4 linked regions of the Homo sapiens genome follow. The protein of the gene in region 4 binds, or shares a complex with, the protein of the main gene of each other region. Links are inferred from orthologs where the notes say so. Each region holds a gene or a part of one and is shown on either strand. Other genes may lie near its edges. The genes, in order: ORC4, LRWD1, ORC3 and ORC2.

Evidence for each region.
Region 1: the proteins of ORC2 (region 4) and ORC4 are in contact, whole or in part, in a cryo-EM structure (PDB 7JPP), measured with the Homo sapiens proteins. Residues at the interface, in NP_006181.1 of Homo sapiens: Asp501, Asp504, Tyr508, Ser512, Gln518, Glu522, Val554; in NP_001177808.1 of Homo sapiens: Lys168, Asn169, Arg195, Glu200, Leu201, Lys204, Arg205.
Region 2: the proteins of ORC2 (region 4) and LRWD1 are in contact, whole or in part, in a crystal structure (PDB 8SIU), measured with the Rattus norvegicus proteins. The link is inferred for Homo sapiens from one-to-one orthologs. Residues at the interface, in NP_001012003.1 of Rattus norvegicus: Val11, Pro12, Ser13, Val14, Gln15, Phe16, Val17, Gly18, Asp19, Val22, Leu23, Ser24, His25, Ile26, Leu27, Asp28; in XP_038945348.1 of Rattus norvegicus: Pro262, Leu263, His264, Phe265, Leu266, Gln267, Cys268, Ser270, Asn273, Ser274, Pro275, Leu320, Val321, Leu322, His323, Lys324, Tyr325, Lys326, Leu367, Val369, Gly372, Phe373, Cys374, Pro596, Pro598, Val599, Ala600, Val605, Ile630.
Region 3: the proteins of ORC2 (region 4) and ORC3 are in contact, whole or in part, in a cryo-EM structure (PDB 7JPO), measured with the Homo sapiens proteins. Residues at the interface, in NP_006181.1 of Homo sapiens: Leu239, Glu242, Tyr243, Ala246, His247, Asp268, Arg273, Leu276, Val279, Ser280, Phe283, Glu286, Leu287, Leu290, Lys296, Leu297, His299, Lys300, Met302, Leu303, Gln304, His306, Leu307, Phe309, Tyr314, Gly315, Leu316, Arg320, Glu324, Arg327; in NP_036513.2 of Homo sapiens: Thr3, Ser4, Ser5, Met6, Ser7, Lys8, Gly9, Cys10, Phe11, Val12, Phe13, Lys14, Pro15, Arg20, Ile22, Ile26, Tyr29, Phe30, Lys32, Tyr47, Val111, Thr112, Lys139, Asp318, Lys326, Gln329, Leu330, Leu333, Tyr337, Glu589.

Annotation. Positions count from the first base shown.
Region 1 is NC_000002.12:147,947,710-147,954,743, reverse strand, and holds part of ORC4 (origin recognition complex subunit 4), read left to right. Parts: intron 1-2,219; coding exon 2,220-2,371; intron 2,372-6,519; coding exon 6,520-6,693; intron 6,694-7,034. UniProt on the Homo sapiens protein: Component of the origin recognition complex (ORC) that binds origins of replication. DNA-binding is ATP-dependent. The specific DNA sequences that define origins of replication have not been identified yet.
Region 2 is NC_000007.14:102,467,961-102,473,679, forward strand, and holds the end of LRWD1 (leucine-rich repeat and WD repeat-containing protein 1), read left to right. Parts: intron 1-101; coding exon 102-227; intron 228-302; coding exon 303-417; intron 418-593; coding exon 594-694; intron 695-894; coding exon 895-1,102; intron 1,103-1,613; coding exon 1,614-1,686; intron 1,687-1,781; coding exon 1,782-1,922; intron 1,923-3,508; exon of another isoform or gene 3,509-3,571; intron 3,572-4,257; coding exon 4,258-4,349; intron 4,350-4,493; coding exon 4,494-4,649; intron 4,650-4,731; coding exon 4,732-4,844; intron 4,845-4,948; coding exon 4,949-5,089; 3' UTR 5,090-5,208; downstream 5,209-5,719. UniProt on the Homo sapiens protein: Required for G1/S transition. Recruits and stabilizes the origin recognition complex (ORC) onto chromatin during G1 to establish pre-replication complex (preRC) and to heterochromatic sites in post-replicated cells.
Region 3 is NC_000006.12:87,663,107-87,667,957, reverse strand, and holds the end of ORC3 (origin recognition complex subunit 3), read right to left. Parts: coding exon 4,814-4,851; intron 3,216-4,813; coding exon 3,099-3,215; intron 2,205-3,098; coding exon 2,125-2,204; intron 948-2,124; coding exon of another isoform or gene 941-947; coding exon 835-940; 3' UTR 507-834; downstream 1-506. UniProt on the Homo sapiens protein: Component of the origin recognition complex (ORC) that binds origins of replication. DNA-binding is ATP-dependent. The specific DNA sequences that define origins of replication have not been identified yet.
Region 4 is NC_000002.12:200,953,648-200,960,681, reverse strand, and holds part of ORC2 (origin recognition complex subunit 2), read left to right. Parts: intron 1-1,241; 5' UTR 1,242-1,290; intron 1,291-2,548; 5' UTR 2,549-2,558; coding exon 2,559-2,652; intron 2,653-3,137; coding exon 3,138-3,281; intron 3,282-7,034. UniProt on the Homo sapiens protein: Component of the origin recognition complex (ORC) that binds origins of replication. DNA-binding is ATP-dependent. The specific DNA sequences that define origins of replication have not been identified yet.

The sequences.
Region 1 (7,034 bases), about 53 Mb from region 4:
TTAATTTGAATAATTTTGTTCTTTAATTTGCATAATTCTGGTTACTTAATTTGCATAATTCTGATAGTGGTGATGCTTGTCATTTCATATTTTTATTGACCTTTGAAATTTCCTGGTTTATGTACAGTCATGTGCCACATAACAACCTTTAATTCAATGATAGACCACATATGTGACAGTGGTCCTATTAGATTATAAAACCATATTTTTACTGTACCTTTCCTGTGTTTAGATATGTTTAGATACACAAATACTTCGCATTGTGTTACAGTTGTCTACACTATCACATGCTCATAGGTTCATAGCCTAGGAGCAATAGGCTATGCCATATAGCCTAGGTGTCTAGTAGGCTATACCATCTAGGCTTGGGTAAGTACACTGTTAGGATGCTTGTACAACGATGCAGTCACCTAACAATACATTTCTCAGAACGTATCTCTGTCATTAAGGGACACACGACTGTATTTCCTGTTGGGTCTTTGACCTATTGTGGTAATGTTTATGTTATGCTTATTTATCGGAATTTTTGTGTTTTATTTTTCTCTTCCCTTAAGTTTGGTTTGGACTTTTCTGCTGATCTAAAGTTTTATGTTTTCCACATAGTTAAGTTTATCTAGAAAGTTTTTTCTCTCCTTCAGATTATAAAAACATTCATTGATCCATCTTTTTATTTAATATATATATATATTTGTAATTTATAATTTGTTTGGAATTTATTCTGATTTTACCTGTAAAGTAGGGATCTGACTTTGAATAGACTAATTTTCCCCACTGATGTATAATGCAATATTTTATCAAATACTAAAATTCTATATTAGTACATAAGTCTCTTTCTAGACTTTTGAGTAATCCCTTTGGTTTTGTACCAGTATTAAGTCATTTAGGCTACTGTATTTGTTATTTGTTGAAATAAGTCTTTCTTTTATCAGATATTTGTTTCACTTTTTAACACAAATATAAAGGCGTTAAGCCTAAGGTAAAAGGGATTCTTTTACTAAAGTTGTTTCCATTATTGAAGTGAGAAAAATGTAACCAGAGGGTGATGTGGAACTTTCCCCATGAAAAGCATTGTAGTTGAAATGCTAAAAGTTGTGCTTCAAGGGAGTTTAAGTGGCTTTAGTTGAACTTTATAATCTACAAGTTTGTTTATAAAAAGTATTTCTACAAGAAATGTACCTTGTATTTCTACTAAATAAACAACTCTCTTTTAAAGCATTAGTTTTGTTCATTAATTAGTGACTCCCCTTATATTTTAATCTTAAAGTGTTTTGGTTCTGTGTAGGTATAGAAAACTCTGTCAATTTTATAATCATTAAATAAGAATTATATTTACGTAATTATAAAAATAATAGTCTTTAGTCATTTAAATGATTTTTGACATTTTTCAACAACAAACTCTACTAGAGTCTAGGAACTAGACTGCACTTTTTATTTTTTGGAGATGGAGTTTCACTCTTGTTGCCCAGGCTAGAATACAATGGTGTGATCTCAGCTCACTGCAACCTCTGCCTCCGCAGTTCAAGAGATTCTCCTGCCTCAGCCTCCCAAGTAGCTAATTTTTTTTTTTTTTTTTAATAGCAGAGATGGGGTTTTACCATGTTGGCCAGGCTGGTCTCAAACCCCTGACCTTAGGTGATCCACCTACCTCGGCCTCCCAAAGTGCTGGGATTACAAGCGTGAGTCACCATGCCCGGCCTAGACTGAACTTTTTTTTTTTGAGATGGAGTTTCACTCTCGTTGCCCAGGCTGGAGTGCAGTGGCACGATCTTGGCTCACCACAACCTCTGCCTCCTGGGTTCAAGCAATTCTCCTGCCTCAGCCTCCCGAGTAGCTGGGATTACAGGCATGCGCCACCACACCTGACTAATTTTGTATTTTTAGTAGAGATGGGATTTCTCCATGTTTGTCAGGCTGGTCTCGAACTCCCGACCTCAGGTGATCCACCCACCTCAGCCTCCCAAAGTGCTGGGATTACAGGCATGAGCCACCACGCCCAGCCTAGACTGAACTTCTTGAGAGCAGTCGGGGCTGTGTTTGTCCTTTGAATAATTTTTTTCTGTTGAATGAACGTATATGCATCAGTAAATCCCCTACCCAAAGTAGGCTATCAGAATGTTTACAGAATTGAGTTTTAAAAACTGAAATATAGTAAATGGTTTGGAAATTTAGGAAAGGTGGATATAATTTCTTATTAATGTAATGCTCTTATTTTATCTTAGGTGACCGAACTAGCAGTTGCCCAGTGATCTTCATATTAGATGAATTTGATCTTTTTGCTCATCATAAAAACCAAACACTTCTCTATAATCTTTTTGACATTTCTCAGTCTGCACAGACCCCAATAGCAGTTATTGGTCTTACATGTAGATTGGTAAGTCTTTCTGTTCATTAAAAAAATTGATTATAATATTTTAAAATTCAAGCTTAATTGCTGACACTGCTAGTTTTTTTCACTTATTTAGGTCATTTTAAAAATTTTGTTTCAGCAGTGCCTGGTGTATTTATCCTGCTTTCAACTCAAATTGAGGAAAACAGTTTAGTAGTTACCTTAGCCCATTAATGAATACCTCCCTCCTCCCAGTGAAATTACTGAAGAAAAAAGTATGAAATCAGATTATGCTAATAAATATAATTTCTACATTATCAAGTAATGAGGCGGTTAAATCTCACCAATATTTGAGAAAACTTGGTAATAGTTTTTATTTTAAGATTTTTTTCCATATTTTGAAAAGGCTTGAAATCAACTCTAAGTAATACTATTCCAACTTTCAAAGTACACATCTCCAGAAATGGAAAAGATTCTACCAAGCACTGACAGTAGATAGTGGCTTCTTCATTCCATGGGATATTTTAGAATGATTTTAACTATAGTCTCAATATCACTATCACTTTGCCTTGTGAAGGCTCTGTACATATTGAACCATGTGTACCTTTGGACAGCAGTACAGGCCTTTTTGTGTTTACCTTCTTACACGCATGTAGTATTAACTTACTGAATTCAGATAAAACTGGTATTGAAGAGTGCCTTGGCCCATTTTGTGTTGCTATAACATAATACCTGAGACTTGGTAATTTTTAAAGAAAAGAAGTTTATTTATCTCACAGTTCTGCAGGCTGAAAAATTCAAGCGCATGGCACTGGCTTTGTTGCAAGGGTTTTCATGCTGCATGACATGGTGGAAGGTCAAATGGGGAACCGAAATGTGCAAAAACGAACCAGATAGGAGTTGGAACCTCAATTTATAACAACTCACTGTCTCAAGAACTAATCTATCCCCATGAGAACAAGAACTCACTCCAGTAAGAAGGCATTAAATCTATTTATGAGGGTCCACTCCAGTGACTTCCCACTGTTGCACTGGCAATTAAATTTCAACATGAGATTTGGTGGGGACAAACCATATCCAAACCATAGCAAAGTTGTCTCTTTTCTCATGCTATGACTGCCATGCCTCCATAGCTTTCTTGCAATCCTCTTCCCCCTCCATTCTCGGCAGATGTGTCAGGCACATTTACATGTTCACATCTCCTTTCCTACAACCCTTTTTCTTTTTCAGAAAAGTGAAACTTTTTTCTAATTCATATTTCAACAGTCCTCCTTCCAGTGCTGTTTCTCTATAGAGTGACTGTCATTTGCCCCTCCTTTCCTGTGCTCTAGAGCTTATGATACATGGCTTTAGTATAAACATCCCTCATACATCACTGGCTGGTGCTCCACATATCTTTATTCCTCCTTGCCAAAAGCAGCAGGCGATGACAAGGATCAAAGAAGCATCCTCCTTCTTGCCAAAAAAAAAAAAATCTTCCTTTGGGTGGAAGTGGCTGTGGTGAGTGTTGTTGACCCAATAACGGACCAAATAAAATGCCAGTAACTTCTTAGCAGTGTTATCAGATGTTCTTTTTTATTGTATATATATAATTCTCCAACTGTGTAGTTCTTTCAAGTGTAATTTTTTTTCTTTTTCTTTTTTTTTTTTTTTGAGATGGAGTCTTGCTCTGTCGCCCAGGCTGGAGTACAATGGCATAATCTCGGCTCACTGCAACCTCCACCTTCGGGGTTCAAGCAATTCTCCTGCCTTAGCCTCCCGAGTAGCTGGGATTACAGCCACACACCGCCATGCCTGGCTAATTTTTGTATGTTTAGTAGAGATGGGGTTTCACCATGTTGCCCAGGCTGCTCTCGAACTCCTGACCTCGTGATCTACCCCCCTTGGCCTCCCAAAGTGCTGGGATTACAGGCGTGAGCCACTGCGCCTGGCCTCAAGTATAATTTTATCTGTGTATCCACGTTTATAGGGAGAGAACAAAAGTATAGAGGGAGTAGTGACTTTGCCAGCAAGCATCTTCTTCCCCATTGGGAGTAATTCCATTTTTGTTTTTTGGTTTTGTTTTGTTTTTACTAGTTCCTGTATGCCCACATTGCCAACTTCTGTCATTACTGCCTACTACAAAGACAGTATTTACTTCCATCTCTTTTCATTCCCAAATTTAGGGTCTGAATTGTTGCTTGTATAGATTATTACTTCCACTGTCTACCTATATGGGTGACCTAGAACTCTTTCTTAATAGAAAATAAATGTACAATATCTGAATCTCTGAATATAACCTTTCTTGTCTTTTAGTTCTCATGCTGGCACTATACTTTTCTTTGACCTCATAAAAACATTCAAAATTTTTTATTCACCCTCCCACCTCCTACCTCAGGCTATTAGTCTTTCCTGTCCACCTTCCCAAACTAACCATGATCCCATTTTGATCACTTGAATTCTTTCCTCTATATCATGATTTCTTCACGTAGGTATTATGAGAGTCATCTGGCTAGATGTGGAGATGTATATTTCTGGGCTTAAACTACTCCCCTTTTAAAAATCTTTATAACATTTCAACAATATACATAGGAAAGAATAAATAATGAGCCCTGAATTCCCTTCTCCACTCATTGCCAAGATTCAATTACTACAGACTAATTTTATTTATCCTCAACATCTCCTTTCATTCCTGTATTATTTTGAGGCAAAAACTAGGTATTATATCATTTTATCAGTAAGTATTTTAGAATGTATTTTTAGGAGATAAGAGCTCTTTAAAAATATATTTCCCTAATATAATTGTTATATTAGCTGTAATTCCTTAAAGTCATCAAATATCATGTCACTGTTTTTAAAACAGCTTTATTGAGATGTAATTTATACCATACAACTCACTCATTTAAATTATACAATTAACAGGGTTTTTGTTTATTCATAGAGTTGTGCATTTATCACCACAGTTTAAGAGCCACGTACCTTTTAGTGATCACCCCAAATCCCCTGTTCCCTCCCCAGCCCTATGCAACCACTAATCTGCTAATCCACTTTCTGACTGTTTAGTAATTTTTGAATCATACAACGTATAGTTTTGTGTGACTGGCTTCTTTAACATGTTTTCAGAGTTGATCTGTGTTACAGCATATATCAGCCCTTTATTCCTTTTTATTACCAAATAATATTCTGTTGTGTAGATATACCACACTTTGTTTATCCATTCATCAGTTGATGGACATTTGGGTTGTTTATATTTCTTAAGCTATTAAAAATAATACTGCTGCAAACATTCACATACACTTTTTTTGTGGTTATCTGGTTTCATTTGTCTTGGTTGTATACCTTGGAGTGTAACTTAAGTAATAAATATATATTATACTATACTGTATATATATAGATGTATATATACATATATAATATAAATTATATATATTATATATAATATGCTGTGTACTATAATATATTTTGAAAAATTGCTCAAGTTCATTATTAAAAAGAGATTTAGGAATGACAGTTCCTGCAATATATGTGACTTAGGAAGACAGCTTACCTATTGTGCTTTTGATGTCTTGGATAGTTTGAATGCCTATCAGTTTTGTGGAAGTATTTTCTTCATTTAAGAACACTTCGTATGTCCTTACAAGCAGTACATATTAGTTATCCTTTGGTTTTTAGTGTTCTTTGACAGTAAATTTGATTCCTGATTTCTTTTTAAGGAAAAATAGCACAAATACAAATAGAGTCTAAAAGCATTACTATAAAAAAAAAAAAGCCGGAAGATAACTTACGAATGCCATGTTGCATTTCTGCCACTTTCCTCTCCTAAAGTTGGTTCCTGCTGCCTATCATGCTATTAATTTTTTAATCTCAGTTCTTCATAGAATGTACAGAATTCCTTATTGACACTCTTGGTGTTATTGTGACATATAGCTATTCAATATTGTCAGTTTTTTTAAACAGTCATGTTGGGTCTTGGAATGTTACAGATTAGCTGAGAGTAACATGGTGGGAAAAAGGCATGACATCACCAAGCCAGCAAATGCCTGGAGGTGGATTATTTAGTTTGCATAAAATGTTTTAAATGTTTAATTATGTATTGTAGACTAAACATTACTAATTATAGGTGATAGTTTACTTATACCTCTAACATTGGTACAGTGTTTTTGTTTTTTTAAAAACATTCATCTTCCTTATAGAGATTTCTGTTTGTTTTTAAGGATATTTTGGAACTCTTAGAAAAAAGAGTGAAGTCAAGATTTTCTCACCGGCAGATACACTTAATGAATTCATTTGGTTTTCCACAGTATGTTAAAATATTTAAAGAACAGTTATCTCTACCTGCAGAGTTTCCAGACAAGGTTTTTGCTGAGAAGTGGAATGAAAATGTTCAGGTATCTTAAAAGGCAATAAAGCTAAATGTTCCTTGCTATATGATTTAAAGCAATTAAAACACAAATTTTAGAAATTAGTAAATTAACACAAAGTTTCTAATATTGCTGAAGGATAATGCTGCAGTAATACAAATTATATACTTTTTAAAAATTTTCTTCTTAGACAGTTGAAATGTCATTTCTCCTAAATTCTATCTCAAAAGAACATCACAGTTAAGCTTTAGGATTTATGTTATTAGTTTGAAGTAAACTTTAATGAGGCTTTAGTTTTATCTGTATGTGGTTTATATTTTAGATAATTTTATTTTATATATTTTACATATTTAGCAATAATAATAAAT
Region 2 (5,719 bases), on a different chromosome or scaffold from region 4:
CCTGGGCCTCCTGCATCCGCAGTGAGGTGGGGTCCAGCCTGTGATGGGGAGGAAGGAAGCCCCAGGCAGACAGGCCCATGGTCACAAGGCCCCCTCCACAGGCCAGACTGGCGGCCTTGAAACGGCCAGACGACGTCCCACTCAGCCTCTCTCCCAGCAAGCGGGCGTGTGCCTCCCCGTCGGCCCAGGTGGAGGGCAGCCCTGTGGCAGGCTCCGATGGCAGCCAGGTGAGCTGAGGTGGCAAGGAGCAGGTGGCAGATGAGTCGGGGCTGGGCAGCTGTGACCCTTCTCTCCCCCCACAGCCTGCTGTGAAGCTGGAGCCCCTGCACTTCCTGCAGTGCCACAGCAAGAACAACAGCCCCCAGGACCTCGAGACCCAGCTGTGGGCCTGTGCCTTCGAGCCGGCCTGGGAGGAGGGTACATGGTGGCGGGCAGGCGGGGCAAGGGCCGCTGGAAATAGGGCCGCCTGGATGGGTGGGGGATCAGGAGACAGAGCTTAAAAGGCGCCATCAAGGCTGGGAGGAGGAGGCTGCAGGGAGGACCTAGATGGGAAATGTCTCTGCTCATCCGACCTCTCAAAACCGGGCACTCAGGGGCCACATCCCAGACCGTGGCCACGTGCGGCGGGGAGGCTGTGTGCGTAATTGATTGCCAGACGGGCATCGTGCTCCACAAGTACAAGGCACCCGGCGAGGTGAGTGCAAGGCCCTGTCCCTGCTGGGCAAGGGTGCCCGACTGACTCCTGAACAGCAGCATGGGGATGGATGCAGGCTCGGCCCCCTGCCCCATGGCCTTTTTCTTTCATGCTGGGGCTCCCTCCCCCAGGCCCGGGCTACCCGCGTGTTCACACCAATAGCTCTGCCCCAGTGACTGTTTACTCTAACCCCCGCCCAGGAGTTCTTTTCTGTGGCCTGGACCGCTCTGATGGTGGTCACACAGGCTGGCCACAAGAAGCGCTGGAGTGTGCTGGCGGCTGCAGGCCTACGGGGCCTGGTCCGGCTGCTGCACGTGCGTGCCGGCTTCTGCTGCGGGGTCATCCGAGCCCACAAGAAGGCCATCGCCACCCTGTGCTTCAGCCCCGCCCACGAGACCCATCTCTTCAGTAAGCCCCTCCCCTTCACCCCTGGGACCCCCAAGCACCCCTGTCCTGCTGCCCCAGTAGCCTCCACGCTCCCCTCCCTGGGATGGCTGTGAGCTCGGGCGCCTGCCGGGCCCCAGTCTGCACCGCTCCGACTCTAGCTTTGGCAGGAAGCCATGTCGCTTCAACCCTGGCTTTATCCACAGCCTGCTCTGTGGCCTCGGAGTTTTCCAACAGCCTGGGCCACTCTGTCCCCTGTCAGTGACCTGGGGGGATGCCCCTGCCCCCGGGTGTGGCGCCCCTGTCAAGGGGGATGGATGAGCCACAGGAAGTGGCCGCTGGAGCCACCGCATCAGGTTAGATGGAGGAAACAGGGATTGGGGGCCCAGGAGTGTTCCTGTCTCCTAGCCTCGGCCCGCCCTCCCCGCCTCGGAGGGGCTGGCCTTGGGACCGTGGGCTCAGCCTGGGATGCAGCCAGCAGGAGGGAGCAGGGTCATCTCAGGGCCACTTCTCCCCTACCCCACCCCCTCTTCAGCGGCCTCCTATGACAAGCGGATCATCCTCTGGGACATCGGGGTGCCCAACCAGGACTACGAATTCCAGGCCAGGTGATGCTTCGGGTGAGGCTGGGGAGTGGCCAGCTGCTGGGGCAGGGACACCTCGGTCTGGGTCTGATGCTCTGTTCCCCCTTGCCCACTGGCAGCCAGCTGCTCACACTGGACACCACCTCTATCCCCCTGCGCCTCTGCCCTGTCGCCTCCTGCCCGGACGCCCGCCTGCTGGCCGGCTGCGAGGGCGGCTGCTGCTGCTGGGACGTGCGGCTGGACCAGCCCCAAAAGAGGAGGTGAGGCTGGGCAGGGGGCGCCTTGGAAGCCAGGCCTCTGCAGAGGGTGGCTGTTGGCCCAGATGGGCTCACAGCAGCCTGGGCACACCCGGGTAACCATAAGGGTTGTTTTTAGAGGCCTCTTCGCAGAGCTGGCTTGTCCCACCTTTCTGCCAGGCTCTGGAGGAAAGGACTCTGACCCTGCTCTCACCCTGGGTTCAGCTGTGGGACTGGGCCATGATGACCTCCCCTTCACCTGGGGCTTCAGCACCATGCTGTGCCCACGTGATCCAGCCCACTCCTGCCACTCATCAGCAGTGTGATGGTCCTCTGTGCTGGCATAATGTCCTCATCTGTAAAGAGGGGCCGATGGCTAGCGGAGGGCAGGTGAGGTGGTGTCTGGGCAGGCAGGCTTTGGAAGTGCCACGTTGAGGCTTTCTGGCTCATCTGTCCCACCTGGAAGGCCTCTGAGACAGGGCTTGGCAAGGGGTCCCTGTCCTCTTGGGGCCCCCAGCCTACTGGGGAAGACAGATGCTCAGCAAAGGTGGCCAATCAAAATCCCACAGTGTGATGCCAGCTACGAAGGAGACGGAAAAAGAGTAACGGGCAGAGGGACACTAGCGTGGGGGCCTCAGGGGACTCTGCTGAGGTGACCAGCGGCAGATGGATATTCTGGGGCTCACGCTTTCCTCCCTGGGAGCCTGGTGAGGGAGTCAGCGGGCGGAGGGTGGGGAGGTGCTTGCATGGAGGAAATGGTACGTGCAAAGGTCAGTGGCAGGGGAGCCAGCTGGCCTGCTCCACCATGTGGCCACAGCTGGGTGGACCCAGCCCAGAACAAGGTGGCAAGGGTGCCTGGGCGGGGCACGCCGGGCTTCGTCAGCCACGGTAAGCTTTGCATTTCTATTTATTTACTTTTTATTTGAGATAGAGTCTCCCTCTTGTCACCCAGGCTGGAGTACAGTGGCTCGATCTCGGCTCACTGCAACCTCTGCCGCCAGGTTCCAAGTGATCCTCCTGCCTCAGCCTCCCGAGTAGCTGGGATTACAGGCGCACGCCACCATGCCCGGCTAATTTTCTTTTCTTTGAGATGGAGTTTCACTCTTGTTGCCCAGGCTGGAGTGCAATGACACGATCTCGGCTCACTGCAATTTCCACCCCCCCACCGGGTTCAAGCAATTCTTCTGCCTCAGCCTCCCAAGTAGCTGGAATTACAGGTGCACGCCAACACGCCTGGCTTATTTTTGTATTTTAATAGAGATGGGGTTTCACCATGTTGGCCAGGCTGGTCTCGAACTCCTGACCTCAGGTGATCCACCCGCCTCAGCCTCCCAAAGTGCCAGGATTACAGATGTGAGCCATTGCACCCAGCTGACTTTTGTCTTTTTAATAGAGACGGGGTTTCACCGTGTTGGCCAGGCTGGTCTCGAGCTCCTGACTTCAGGTGATCCACCCACCTCAGCCTCCCAAAGTGCTGGGATTACAGGTGTGAGCCACTGCCCTGGGCCAAGATTTGGATTTTTAGCTTACCTACAACAAACAGCCCAGGAGGAGCTTCGACACAGCAGCTGCTGTGTTGAAAGGAGCAGCAGGGGCCTTGGCGGCAGAGGTGGTGGCGGCGGTAGTTATGGGCTTCTCTTTCTCACCAGCAGCCCCTGGGCCGCCGCCTCCCTCCCTGCCCGTATGTCTGGTCCCTGTGTCTAAGATGCTTCTTCTCTTACCCTCTGCCCAACTGGCTCAGGCCTGGCCCATGGTTAGCTGCTGGGCCACTCTCCTGGCTCCAGGCTAGCCTCCGAGAGTCAGGTAGCTGCCGGGACACTTCTCCAAGCAGACACTCCCACACACTCTCAGCTCTGAACCATGCAGCAGCCATTCCCTCATTCCCCCATTCCCCCGTCTTTTGAGTCAGAGCAGATGCCCCCAACAGCCCCCTGGGCCATGGCCCCCCATTCCCCCGTCTTTTGAGTCAGAGCAGATGCCCCCAACAGCCCCCTGGGCCATGGCCTGGAAACACCTGCTCTACTTGGCTGCCAGGAGGCCCCTGTTCATCTCACACTCGGTCCCAGAGGCACTGGCTCGCTTCAGAGCCTTATCCAACCCCCTGGCCTAGCCCCGTCCTGGAAGAGCCACCCCTCGTGCCTCTGGGTCACTACTGTGACTCGGGACACTCAGGTGCTGGCTCCCCCTTCCAGGGCAAACTGAACCTTCCTGGGGCCAAGAATGTATCTCTTTGGTGGCATCTTCTGTGCAGCCTTCACACAGGGCAGGGTCCCCAGCAGGTGCGCTGCAGATGCCTGGGTGAGTGGGCAGCTCTCTATCTGCAAGGAATGGCCAACTAGCATCTCGTGCTGCCCCACAGGGTGTGTGAAGTGGAATTCGTCTTCTCTGAGGGCTCCGAGGCATCTGGACGGAGAGTGGATGGGCTGGCATTTGTGAATGAGGACATCGTGGGTGAGTGAGCTCAGCTTGTGGGACAGCCTGGCCTCCGGGCACACAGATGGACCGCTTGTCCCTGGGCTAGGCTTCTGAGGATCTCTAGTGGGAGAAGGTGTCTGGGAGGGGCCACCCTGCACAGCTCTCCCTTCTCCCCCACAGCCTCCAAGGGGAGCGGCCTGGGCACCATCTGCCTGTGGAGCTGGAGGCAGACGTGGGGGGGCCGGGGCAGCCAGTCCACGGTGGCAGTGGTGGTCCTGGCGCGGCTGCAATGGTCGTCCACCGAGTTGGCCTACTTCTCGCTCAGCGCCTGCCCTGGTGAGCCTGCCCCCCTGCCCGCCCCATCCCGCGGGCTTCCGGGAGCTCTGCCCCCACTCAGACTCCACCTCTGTCCCGGCAGATAAGGGGATTGTGCTCTGTGGGGATGAGGAGGGCAACGTGTGGCTCTACGACGTCAGCAACATCCTGAAGCAGCCACCCCTGCTGCCGGCAGCCCTGCAGGCCCCCACACAGGTACTGCCCGGCTCACCCTGCCCAGGCTTGGGCTGGCAAGGCATCAGGGGCCCTGCCTTTGGTCAGCAGGAGCCCAGCCCAGCCCTCCCCTCTCTCCCCACCAGATCCTGAAGTGGCCCCAGCCCTGGGCCCTTGGCCAGGTGGTGACCAAGACCATGGTGAACACAGTGGTGGCCAATGCCTCCTTCACCTACCTCACCGCCCTGACGGACTCCAACATCGTAGCCATCTGGGGGAGGATGTAGCCTCACACCATCGCAAAGGACCAGGGACACAGCTAACTAACTTATTCAGCTTTGGGCCGATGGGGGTGGGGGGGGGTCTTTCAGTGAATATTTTTATTAAACTCTACTGTGGACAAGAAGCCTGTGGAAAGGTGTTTCGAGTTATGCAGGAAGAAGTGTTCCTGCTTTGACTGACAGGCAGGCCCAGGAGTTGAGGCTTCTAGAGCAGAGACTCTTGGGAGCTCATGGGTTTGCACACTTCTCTCCGGCTCAGCACAGCCCCCGCAGCAGCCCCTGGACCCCGGATCTTTGGTCCAGAATGAATTCATCCCTGCCAGCCGGACGCCCCTGAAACAGGTCATCTGCCTGCATCAAGCCTGACAATCCATTTGCTTGCGAAGTCACCGCTGCTCAAGTCCACATCCAGGTCTCTCCCGCTATACTTTATTAGGAATATAAAACCTAATCTATGTACAGGACACGTCGGTGTCAGGGTGAGGGGTGGCCACAAGGCGGGCCATGGCTGGGACCGGCCGCTCTCCTCGGTGTGGTACCTGGAGCGGAGGGTCAGGCACAGGTAGGAACGGGGCTCACAGGCCGAGCAGAGCCCCCTCTGGCCCCTACTCAATTCCTTCCTGCTTGTCTTTTATG
Region 3 (4,851 bases), on a different chromosome or scaffold from region 4:
AAAGCCAAACAGTTTGGGACTTTTTTTTTTGACACGGAGTCTCACTCTGTCACCCAGGCTGGAGTGCAGTGGCCGATCTCAGTTCACTGCAACCTCCGCCTCCCGGGTTCGAGCAATTCCCCTGCCTCAGGCTCCCGAGTAGCTGGGACTACAGGCATGTGCCACCACACCTGGCTAATTTTTTGTATTTCTTAGGAGAGATGGGGTTTCACCTTGTTGGCCAGGATGGTCTCGATCTCCTGCCCTTGTGATCCACCCGCCTTGGCCTCTCAAAGTGCTGGGATTACAGGTGTGAGCCACCACGCCTGGCCTTTTTTTTTTTTCTTTAAAGTTGTAAGACTACAGGAAATGGAGAGGCAGAGACAGTTTTGGAACCTATGTAGTCACCAGGAGAAACAACCTGTAAGATATTCATGTTACTTACTGCCTACTACACTAAAGTGAGGAATGCCAATGCAGGGAATTGGGAGAGGAGGAATGAGGATTGCTAAAGCAACTGCAAATAATTTATACTCCTGGATAACGGAATTTATTACATTTACATACTCTAAGTTCAAGAATGATTTACTCACAATTTAGTAATGACTTTGGAAAGTACAGTAAAATGTGTGAGCAGTTTTAGTTACATTATTATTTGTTGGAGTCTAAAGTACTCCACAGGTGTTTTGATACATGCCTGTTTGGGGTTAGCAATGTACTTTTCTGGTTAAACATCAATGGGGGTTACACATTTATCTTCTCAACAAAACAGGCTCCTCTAATATATGTAAATATGACTGGTCACCTTTTTCTCTTAAGCTAAATGTGATAGTTCTGGCTTTGCTTATTTGCTTTCTAGCAGCCTCCCCATGTTAGTCTTGCCACATGGTCAGTCTTCTGTTTGGTAGGTTTTATAAATCCTAAAAGTTCTAGTTCAGAAACAGCTCTAATAAACCGAGCACTGGAGGCTTTAATTAAGGAAACTGGCCGTGCTGTATTTTTGACAAAAAGGGATTAAAATCTCAATGTTAAAATACTAGTTGGTAAAATGAAGTAGATAGTTCAGATATAAACTCCTAAATTAAACTATAACTGTTACTGGAAAACATTAATTAGAATCCACTATCAATAAAACATAAATGGAAAAGTACTTAATGCTTCCTAAATCTAATGTTCTACATAGTATGGAAATTGCTCCCCGCCCCCACTTCTAAACGTACATTAGAAAAATAGAGAATTCAGACCAGGTCAGTGGCTCACACCTGTAATCCCAGCACTTTGGGAGGCCGAGGCAGGCAGATCACCTAAGGTCAGGAGTTCAAGACCAGCCTGGCCAACATGGTGAAATCCCATCTCCCCTAAAAATACAAAAATTAGCCAGGCATGGTGGCAGGCGCCTGTAATCCCAGCTATTTGGGAAGCTGAGGCAGGAGAATCGCTTGAACCCGGGAGGTGGAGGTTGCGGTGAGCCGAGATCGTGCCACTGCACTCCAGCTTGGGCAACAATAGCAAAACTCTGTCTCAAAAAAAAAAAAAAAAAAAAGAATTAGGCCGGGTGAGGTGGCTCACACCTATAATCCTAGCACTTTGGGAGGCCAAGGCGGGCGGATCACAAGGTCAGGAGTTCGAGACCAGCCTGGCCAACATGGTGAAACCCCGTCTCTACTAAAAATACAAAAATTAGCTGGGCTTGGTGGCAGGCACCTGTAATCCCAGCTACTTGGGAGGCTGAGGCAGGAGAATTGCTTGAACCCAGGAGGCGGACGTTGCAGTCAGCCAAGATCGCACTACTGCACTCCAGCTTGGGCGATAGACGAGACTCCGTCTCAAAAACAAACAAACAAACAAAAAAAACAAAAACCAAAAAAAGAGAATTCAATAATGGCAGTTTCATTTTTGGTAAATTTTAAAATATAATCTTGATATAAATTTGATACCAAAAGTTTTAGGTTTGGTCTCATTTTGGATTAAATTCAAAATAAAGATTCAGAAATTTCAGTTATTCTAGCACCATATGGTTAATATTAACAAGTAATACGGTTGTTTGGAGTACGCCTTTATAAATATCTAGTGTAGACCTGGAGAAATTATAAACTTATATTTTATGTGTAGTTGGACATTGTAGAAATGGTTTTAAAAGGATACTGGATAATTTCATTCATTTCTTCTGAGGTTGCAGAATTTGCATCCATTTTTTCAGCAGCTGTCACAACTGTTGCAAAAGCCTTTTGAATAGACAAGACAGAAGAAAATAAAAATGTCTACAGTTGCCAAACATCTTTTACTATACTTCTTTTAATGGCTGTTGATAGCTGGCACATATTCTTCATTATATCAAATTTAAGATTGTCAAAACTACACTGATGATCACTTTAAACCACTTATATATTAAAAGATAAAGTAATGGTTCCTGAATAATCTTGTTTCAGAGAACTAAGAGTATGCAGAGAAAAGAAACGAAGCTAGTCAAAGGTAAAAGAACAAGAAAGCCCTGTTTCCTCTACTAATCTTACTCCAGGAAAATATCTATTTTTCTTGGAAGCAGCCAATTATGGATATTTTTTAATGGTGACAAGACATCTGTAAGGCCTTTAATAGAGTTAAGATCTTTGTAATACTATTCTGAAGACAGAAAGAATAGTTGTTTATTTTAAAGAATAACAACAGTTGTTTATTGCCTTGCCAAGTATTCCTTATACTTCCTGATTGCTAAATCTGTTGTGTAGTTACTTCAATTTTTTTTCTTTTAAGCAAGAAGAGAAATGCTAGTTAATAATATACTTTATTTTGTGAAATAACAGAACTGACCTAAATTGTTTAGTTTTTGCTTAATGCTAACTATTGGGTTAGATCACATACTTATTTTGACCTAGCATGAACACAGAATTGGCTTGGTTAAGGAATTCAGGATCAGAGGGCAGGGGATTGGGAGTGGGGACTGTTGAACTACCACTTCCTAAGGAACTTTTAAAGTTTGAAATGATTTATGCTTTCCAAATAAAAGACAAGGCATTAAACACAAGATAAATTCCAAAGCACTAAAAGTATAAAACTATTCTGAGAAAGTCATCATGGATGGTTAGAAAAATATCTAGCTTGTTCTTTTCCCTACAACCTACCTCTGACCAGTCCACGAGGTTGATGAGCCTGCTACACTCTAGGTGCAGTTTGTATGCTATGCAGATGTCTGGGGCGATATTCGGAATGCAGCCTTCTTCGCTTTTCAGTGCTTCATTCTAACAATTAACAGTAAACTAAGATGACTAACTTTTATAAATTATTAGGAATAAAATCAGACATTAATGAAGCCCCCAACCTAAACTGAGTAAACCAGTAAATGGAATCTTGGTTTCCCTTATTTAGTGAGTGAGTCTATTCAATAGTTAGCTAGTTCTTGTTTAGGTTTATGTCTTGGTCATAACCCCTCTAGTTCTTAGTCACTAGAAGAATATTCCCAGGATTAGAAGATAAGCATATTTTTCATTTCAATCCATAAATTACTAATTTCTCAGACCTGAATGCACTTAATGTAAAAAGTTTATGGAAATCTTTAGGAATACTTAATAAAATGGTACTTCCAACACTTATAATTAGCTGAATTCTAACAATTACTATACTGTATTAGTAAATACTAATACCACTTACCAGGGGTATAAATTTCTTTTAAAGAAAAGACTACGTTGTCAACACTGCAGACCTTAAGCCCTATAGAAACCATCAGTGTTTCTTCAACCTATTTGAAATCCATGGCTTTTACTGAGAAACACAAAGTCTTACATACACACCCTGCTCTGATATTATAATATCAGGGGTATATTATAATATATCCCACCCAAAGACAACTGAAATCATACCAGTTCTCTTCTGTGACCCACCAGCCAAGAAGAAGACAGATTTTGTAAGTTTTAATTTATGGTTTATATATTAAAATTAACTGATTTTTTGGTTAAGTATGAAATTATTCAGTGGTTTTCACCATCACTGAAAACCATTGACTTATATCGTCCTACTCAATATTCTTGTAATACTCTGCATGTTTGTGTGCCGTTTTGCAATGAGAAGCCAGTACACTGGAATGCTCTTCATAGGTCTTACGGAGTTGTTTCTTAAGTATTTATTGTGGCAAGATTTCTGGGTATTTAACTTACCACTCTTTCATGTATATACAGCTTATTGAATGTTTAAAGTGATCATTTTGCCCGGTCATAAGAAAGCTAGTTTCTAAAATTGTGAGCTGTCTTGAACTATTGTTTAAAGAGCTTCCAGGAGTTGATAACTGTGTCTGGACTTTAGCAAGGGCAGCTGAAGTGTGCTGCCCCAGGAGTTTTAGTGGCAGACTGCTGGTTATCCTCTACACTCAGCTCTGCAGATGCTCTCAGAATAGACCTTTCTTTGTTTTAAAATCCAAGATGAAGTCCCAAAGTATTTCTCTTTCCCACTAGAAACAACCATTTCGGTCTTTCAGTAATTTATTAGGCCATATTGTTTAATCCCTGTCTGCTGTTATGTTTACAGGAAACATTTCTTTTATTTTCACAAGAGTGGTAACATTATACTCTCAAGTCTTTGTGCCTATGATCTGACTTTAGCATGTGAAGGGCAAAGATTACACATGGTCAAAAACTGGCAGCAACAGTTGACTACTAATTGCTATCTTTATGGGGTTAGAAATTTTTTTCTACAGTCTAAAGAATTTTTAAAAATATATGAGACGTGCAACCCTGAATTGCCGACTCTCTGCTCATTAAAACATAACTGCAAATTTAGTATATTTTTATGACAATGACGCCCAGAGTCTGAGCTAAACTATCAGAAAACTAAATGTTCATCTTACCTTGAGATAATAGTAAGGATTGTTGAGTGCAGTATGGA
Region 4 (7,034 bases):
ACCTCAGTTTACTCATTTGTAAGTTGGGGACATTATATATATAAAGAGAGAGATGCAAAATACCTAAGTCAGAGAATCTGAGGATTTAATGAGCTGGTGTACATAAATGTGCCTAATACAGTGCCTCACAAACAGCCCCTTAAAAAACCTGTTGCTTTATTTTATACAAATATTACATAAATGGGTTAAACTTTTTCTCTAATACACCCAGTTTCCCCATAATAGGAAACAGTATTATGACTAGAAAAATGGCCCAAGAGGACATGTTTTACAAGCAATGGTCATAAGTTATAGATGAAGTATTTATTATCTTTATTTTTTATTTTTATTTTTAAAATTTTTCCTTCATATCACAGCCAAGTCCACAATTTTTTGTTGTCGTTGTTGTTTAAAAAAATTTTTTTGACCTGGTGTGGTGGCTCACTCCTGTAATCCCAGCAGTTTGGGAGGTAGAGGTGGGTAGATCGCTTGAGCCCAAAGGTTTGAGACAAGCCTAGGCAACATGGTGAAACCTCATTTCTACAAAAAATACAAAAGTTAGCTGGACGTGGTGGCAGAAGCTAGTAGTCCCAGCTGTATGGGAGGCTGAGGTGGGCAGATCACCTGAGCCCAGGAGGTTGGAGCTGTGGTGAGCCAAGATCATACCACTGCTCTAGGTGACAGAGCCCAGACCCTGTCTCAAAAAAAAAGAAAAAAAAATTAGAGACAGAGTCTCACTCTGTTGCCCAATCCGAGTAGACTATAGGCACATGCCACTACGCCCAGCTAATTTTTTTTTTTTTTGGTAGAGGCAGGCCTTACTGTTGCCAGGCTTGTCTTCAACTCCTGGCCTCAAGGGATCCCCCTGCCTCAGCCTCCCAAAGCACTGAGATTATAGGCATGAGCCACTGCACCCAGCCCACTATTTATTATCTTTATACACAAAGTATGAACCTCATAGAGTTGTGCAGATTAAATGAGAATACATATGGAGTACTCAAAACTGTCTAGCACAATGTAAGTGCTCAAATTTTGTCCTCCTCTCTTCCCACTCCATCCAGATGTTCTCAGTATCTAGGGCTTCCTAGCCAAATCAGTAATGGTCTTTTTGTCCTTTACTATACCATTACAACAGCTTTGGCTTTGTAAGGTCTACATGTATCTATTCATCATGCTTGTTAAAACTTGTGGAACTTGTTTTTGCCCCATTGCTTTCATTTTTCTGCTAGCTGACCCTGACTGAGTTATTTTTCCAATTACAGGTGACTGTATCTGAATTTTGCAGCTGCAGAATGTGTAGTACCTTAAAAGGTAAATGAAAACTGAAAGAAGTCATTTAAGCATGTTGCTTGTCAAAATAAAACTTGGTAACATTGAATTAGTTTTCTTCCTGCAGTTAATGAACTCAGAAGAGATAAATGACTGTGGTGGTGGCCCATGCCTGTAAATCCCAGAGGTTTGGGAGGGTGAGGTGGGAAAATTGCTTAATTCCAGGAGCTCAGAACCAGCCTGGGCAACATAGTGAGGCTCCATCTCTACAAAAAAAGGAAAACCTGCCAAGCATGGTGGCATGTGCCTGTAATCCCAACTACTTCAGAGGTTGAGATGGGAGGATTGCTTGAGCCCAGGTGGTTGAGGCTGCAGCAACACAGTGAGACCCTGTCTCAATAAAAAAAGAAAGAAAAGAGAGACACAGTCAATAGTTTCTCCTGCCAAAAGAAAAGGTGAAAACAAGATTGTAAGAAAGAGAGAAGAGAAAAGAAATCACCAAGAACACTGAATCTTAGTTTACATTTTTTGGGTAAACTGATTAGCTGGCAGCAGTTAAAATCATCATTAGTTATTTTCAGGCCAGTAGCATAGTAAGTTCTGAAAGTTCATTTTGTGAGACTAGCCAGAGTTGATCAAACTTTTGCTTGCCAAACTCTGGAGGTTTGTTCAGTGAGGAACTGAGTGTAAAGTGTTCGAAAGATTTGTGTTTACTGTTTAGTTACCAAGATATCTAGAAAGCCATATTCATATTTGTAAAGTTGTTTGGTAAGCATTCCATAAAAGTAAAGGGAGGTGCTTGAGGGTTTTTTGATCCAGGCTTAGGACACAAGTGAAGTTTAACAGACTCCCCACAATTGACTGTAGCTTTCTAGTGAACAGATAATAAAATCCATTAAAGCATTATTCTTTGTTTGGCTGTCACTTTTCTAAACACTCATGTATTAACCACCCCCTTTCTGTTAATGTGCTTATCTGGATTGGTTAGAGCTTTCATTAAAACTTAAAATTGTTTTTCTGAGAATATTTTATTTTATTTTTCTGAGTATATTTTAGCTACCTTGATTGGATTTAGCTCTTCTCAAATCTCAGAATCTCTTTGCCTCCCCAATTTTTTAGATAAAGAATTGAGTTACCTACAGTTGAATATGTAGTAATACAGTAATGCATAATGTATTTTTTATACTTAAAAAGACTTTAAAAATATTAGATAAAGACATGTATTCATTATGTGAATGTTTAATTTGGTGGTTGATATGAATTCTTCATCACTTTTGAGTAACTTACTGTTTTTGTTTAGGTTGGCAACAATGAGTAAACCAGAATTAAAGGAAGACAAGATGCTGGAGGTTCACTTTGTGGGAGATGATGATGTTCTTAATCACATTCTAGATAGAGAAGGAGGTATTAAGTGATTGTACAATTTGAAGAGATGCTTATTATAATGTTTATGGATTATTTCACTTTTAAAACTTTTAACATTTTCTTTTGAAAATATAGCGCAAAGGATTGATCTGGTTAGTAAAACTAAATAAAAACTGCTTTAATTTTTAGTTTAATTCTTTCAAACTTTAATTGAAAATGTTCAGTAAAGCCTAATATAAAACAAAATGCCCAGGAGTGGTAGTCACTAATAACTACCCATTGTAATTTAAAATATGTGGTTATTTTGAACCCTAAAAATATATACTTTCAAGATTGTGTGTGTTTTTTTTTTTAACTATATAAACTGTGGAAGAGTGGTCAGAGTGGTCAGTTTTAATCAAAGAGAAAGCTTTTTTCCCAGCTTTTAAGTAATGACAATATAAATATTATAATTTCTTATTTAAATGTAATGTTTAGAAAGAATTTATACCTGTCATGCTCTATTTCTTTGGATGTTCTTATAGGAGCTAAATTGAAGAAGGAGCGAGCGCAGCTTTTGGTCAACCCCAAAAAAATAATAAAGAAGCCAGAATATGATTTGGAGGAAGATGACCAGGAGGTCTTAAAAGATCAGAACTATGTGGAAATTATGGGAAGAGATGTTCAAGGTATTTGAGGGGGTGAAATATACACTCGTTTCTGCTAGTAGCAGAAATTGCTTTATAGGATACACAAAAGTAGTCTGGTAGGTTAAACAGTGGTGTTCTATATGATCATGTTTCTCATCTAAAAAGCATTTGCTTCAATTTCTCCATAGTTCTTTTTTTTAACAACCAGTCCTGCACATAGTTTTCAGTAAGAAGGAATCTATAGACCAACCACTCTAAAGTTATTTTATTTTTAAAATTTTTCCAGGATACATGTGTACAATGTGCAGGCTTGTTACATAGGTATACATGTGCCATGGTGGTTTGCTGCACCTTTCAACCCATCATCTAGGTTTTAAGCCCCACATGCATTAGCTGTCTGTCCTTATGCTCTCCCTCCCTCCACCCACCCGCAGGCTGTGGCATATGTTGTTCCCCTCCCTGTGTCCATGTGTTCTCATTTTTCAACTCCCACCTATGAGTGAGAATATGCAGTGTGTGGTTTTCTGTTCCTGTGTTAGTTTGCTGAGGATGATGACTTCTAGCTTCATACATGTCCCTGCAAAGGACATGATCTCATTCCTTTTATGGCTGCATAGTACTCCTAAAGTTATTTTCAAGATTATTTATTTATTTATTTATTTATTTTAGAGACAGGGTCTTGCTCAGTCACCCAGATTGGGATGCCATGGCACAATCATAGCTCATTGTAGCCTCCAACTTCTGGGTTCAGGAGATCCTCCCAACTTAGCCACCTGAGTAGCTAGTACTATTTTTAAGGTATTTATTTATGGCCAGACATGGTGGCTCACGCCTGTGATCCCAGTACATTGGGAGACTGAGGCAGGAGGACTGCTTGAGCCCAGGAGTTTGTAACCATCCTAGGCAACATAGTAAGATCCCGTTTCTACAAAAAAAAAAAGTTTTTAATTAGCTGGAAGCTGGGTGTGTGATGGCTCATGCCTGTAATCTCAGCATATTGGGAGACCAAAGCAGATTGATCGCTTGAGTCCAGGAGTTTGAGACTAGCCTGGCATGGTGGCACACACCTGTGGTCCCAGCTATGAGTGAGGCTGAGGTGGGAGGATCACTTGAGCCTGGGAGGTTGAGGCAGCAGTGAGCCGTGATCATACCACTACACTCCAGCCTGGGCAACAGAGTGAGACCCTGTCTCAAAAAAAAAATAAAACTAGCTGAGCATGGTGGCGTGTGCCTGTAGTCCTAGTTACTTGGGAGGCTAACGCAGAGGATTGCTTGAGCCCAGGAGGTTGAGGCTACAGTGAGCTGTGATTGCATCACTATACTCAGCCTGGGTGACAAAGCGAGACCCTAGGTCAAAACAGAACAAAAAAAAGATATTTATATTTTTAACTTATTTAAAATACCTTTCTAAAGCAAGTTACTTTATTCTTACCTTGATCTTTACAGAACTAGGAGGAGCATTTCAAGAAGTAGTGTTCTAACCCAGGGATGCTGGTATTATGTGTGTGGTTTTAATTTTTACATCTAAGCCAGATTCCTGCAAGATTATTCTTAACATAAAACATTTTTTTAGGTTCGAATTATATTTTAGTTAGGTTTTTCCTGGGTACAAGGAACACAGATCCCCACAACCTAGCTTAAAAAAATAATGACAAAGGAAAGAAATCAATATTGTTGGGTACTAGGAGAGTTGGAACTGGGACAGTGTTAAAAACTGAGGAACTGTGCTTTCATGAGTCTCCAGGTCTCCCTGTGTCATCTCTGTGCATCTGTTCTGATTTCTCTATGCCACATATTTTCTTCATGTACATGTGTTTTATTCTCACATACTTATAAATGTCCATCAAGTTCCCAGTGTTAAGTGATTTGGTTTTTCAGTTCTCCCATTCTAGATTCTCAAGAGTCAATTTAGCTCAATTCATTTTTAAAATCTGGACATAGAAATAGCATATAATTGGAATATCCACAGATGAATCACAGTTGAGTTATCTGTGCCTATTACTTATTATATTAATGAACATAATTACATAGTTCATTAACTATGGGGGTAGAGTCATATACTCCATGTATAGAGTTATACAAAAAATGACCACTGCTCCTCAATAGATTTAGTGGGCTGGGTAGGGTCTCCTATGTGTCCACAGCTAGACAGTTGACATTTTTTGAGCATATTCTAAATAAAACTTGGTGTTCTTGACTCCCTATTATGCCAGGCCTAAGAAGAGATTGATAACAGTATTCCACAAAGGAAACTTTTATCATAAAAATTGTCTCTTAAAAAAGTAGTATGTTTGTTGTAGAAATTCAGTGCTTCCAACCTTTCTCACATAACAGCACTCACAGCAAATGATATTTGGAGGCACAATGGAATAAATAGAAGAGGATGCTGCAGACCAAGGACAAATACCCCAGGGCCCTAACCCTACCCCTGCTACTGGCCTTGATTGGCATCCTCAAAGGCCTGAGAGAATCAGTACTCAGCACATATGAAACCCATACCATTTATTTATTTATTTATTTATTTATTTATTTATTCATTCATTCATTCATTCATTCCTCACACTGGGGAACTTTGCCTTATTTTTTGGCATCATGCCCTATGTTTTTCAACCTTTTTAAAATTATTGACCCCTAATTAGCCTTTTTAGACATTTTCTCCTAATCACTTTTTCCCACCCTAAAAATTTCAGTACTACATATATGCTGTATATCTGTTTATGTACTGTGACGCTTTGGAGGGCCACAGACTATTATATTAATAATGTCAAAGTCTTTTTTCCACACTCCCTCCTGTGCCAAGATCCAGTTTTACCCAATTGGGAGATGTATTGTACCTGTCAAGAATGCCTGCTTTAGAGAACGTGGAACCGTTAACATTTCAGTGTGTATCTTCTGTCTGTTCATACATGCATGGGCACACATAAGCTTGCACCATTACGTTTATAAATAGACTTTTTGCAATTAATAATGTATCATATATACATTACTCTGTCATTAGACATTCTTCTACAATAAGAGTTTTGACATGTATTGCCAAATATCCTCCTAAAGTTTATACAGATTACACTATTTAATCATAGTTACATTTTCCTAAAGACTTAGTTTTGGCCAGGTGCAGTGGCTCATGCCTGTAATCTCAGCACTTTGGGAGGCCAAGGCGGGTGGATCGCCTGAGGACGGGAATTCAAGACCAGCCTGGCCAACATGGCGAAACCGTGTCTCTACTAAAAATACAAAAAATTAGCTGGGCGTGGTGGTGGGTGCCTGTAATCTCAGCTACTCGGGAGGCTGAGGCAGGAAAATCGCTTGAACCCGGGAGATGGAGGTTGCAATGAGCCAAGGTCACACCATTGCACTTCAGCCTGGGCAACAAGAGTGAAAATCCATCTCAAAAAAAAAAAAAGAAAAAGAAAGAAAGAAATCCCAAATCCCATCTCTACAAAAAACATACAAAAATTAGCTGGGCGTGGTGGCATGCACCTGTAGTCCTAGCTGCTCAGAAGGCTGAAGTGGGAGGATCACTGGAGCCCAGGAGGTTGAGGCTGCAGTGAGCCACAATCACACCATTGCACACTAGCATGGGTGACAGAGCAAGAATTTATCTCATACACACACAAAAAAGCTTAGCATCTGAACCATTTTTAAAGTGTATGGGTTCAGTGGCATTAGGTACATTCACACCATTTGTAACCAATCTCCCAAACTTTTCTCATTGTACAAAACTGAAATTTATTCATCTGTAGATGGACACTTGGGTTGCTTCAACCTTTTGGGTATTGCGAATGATGCTGC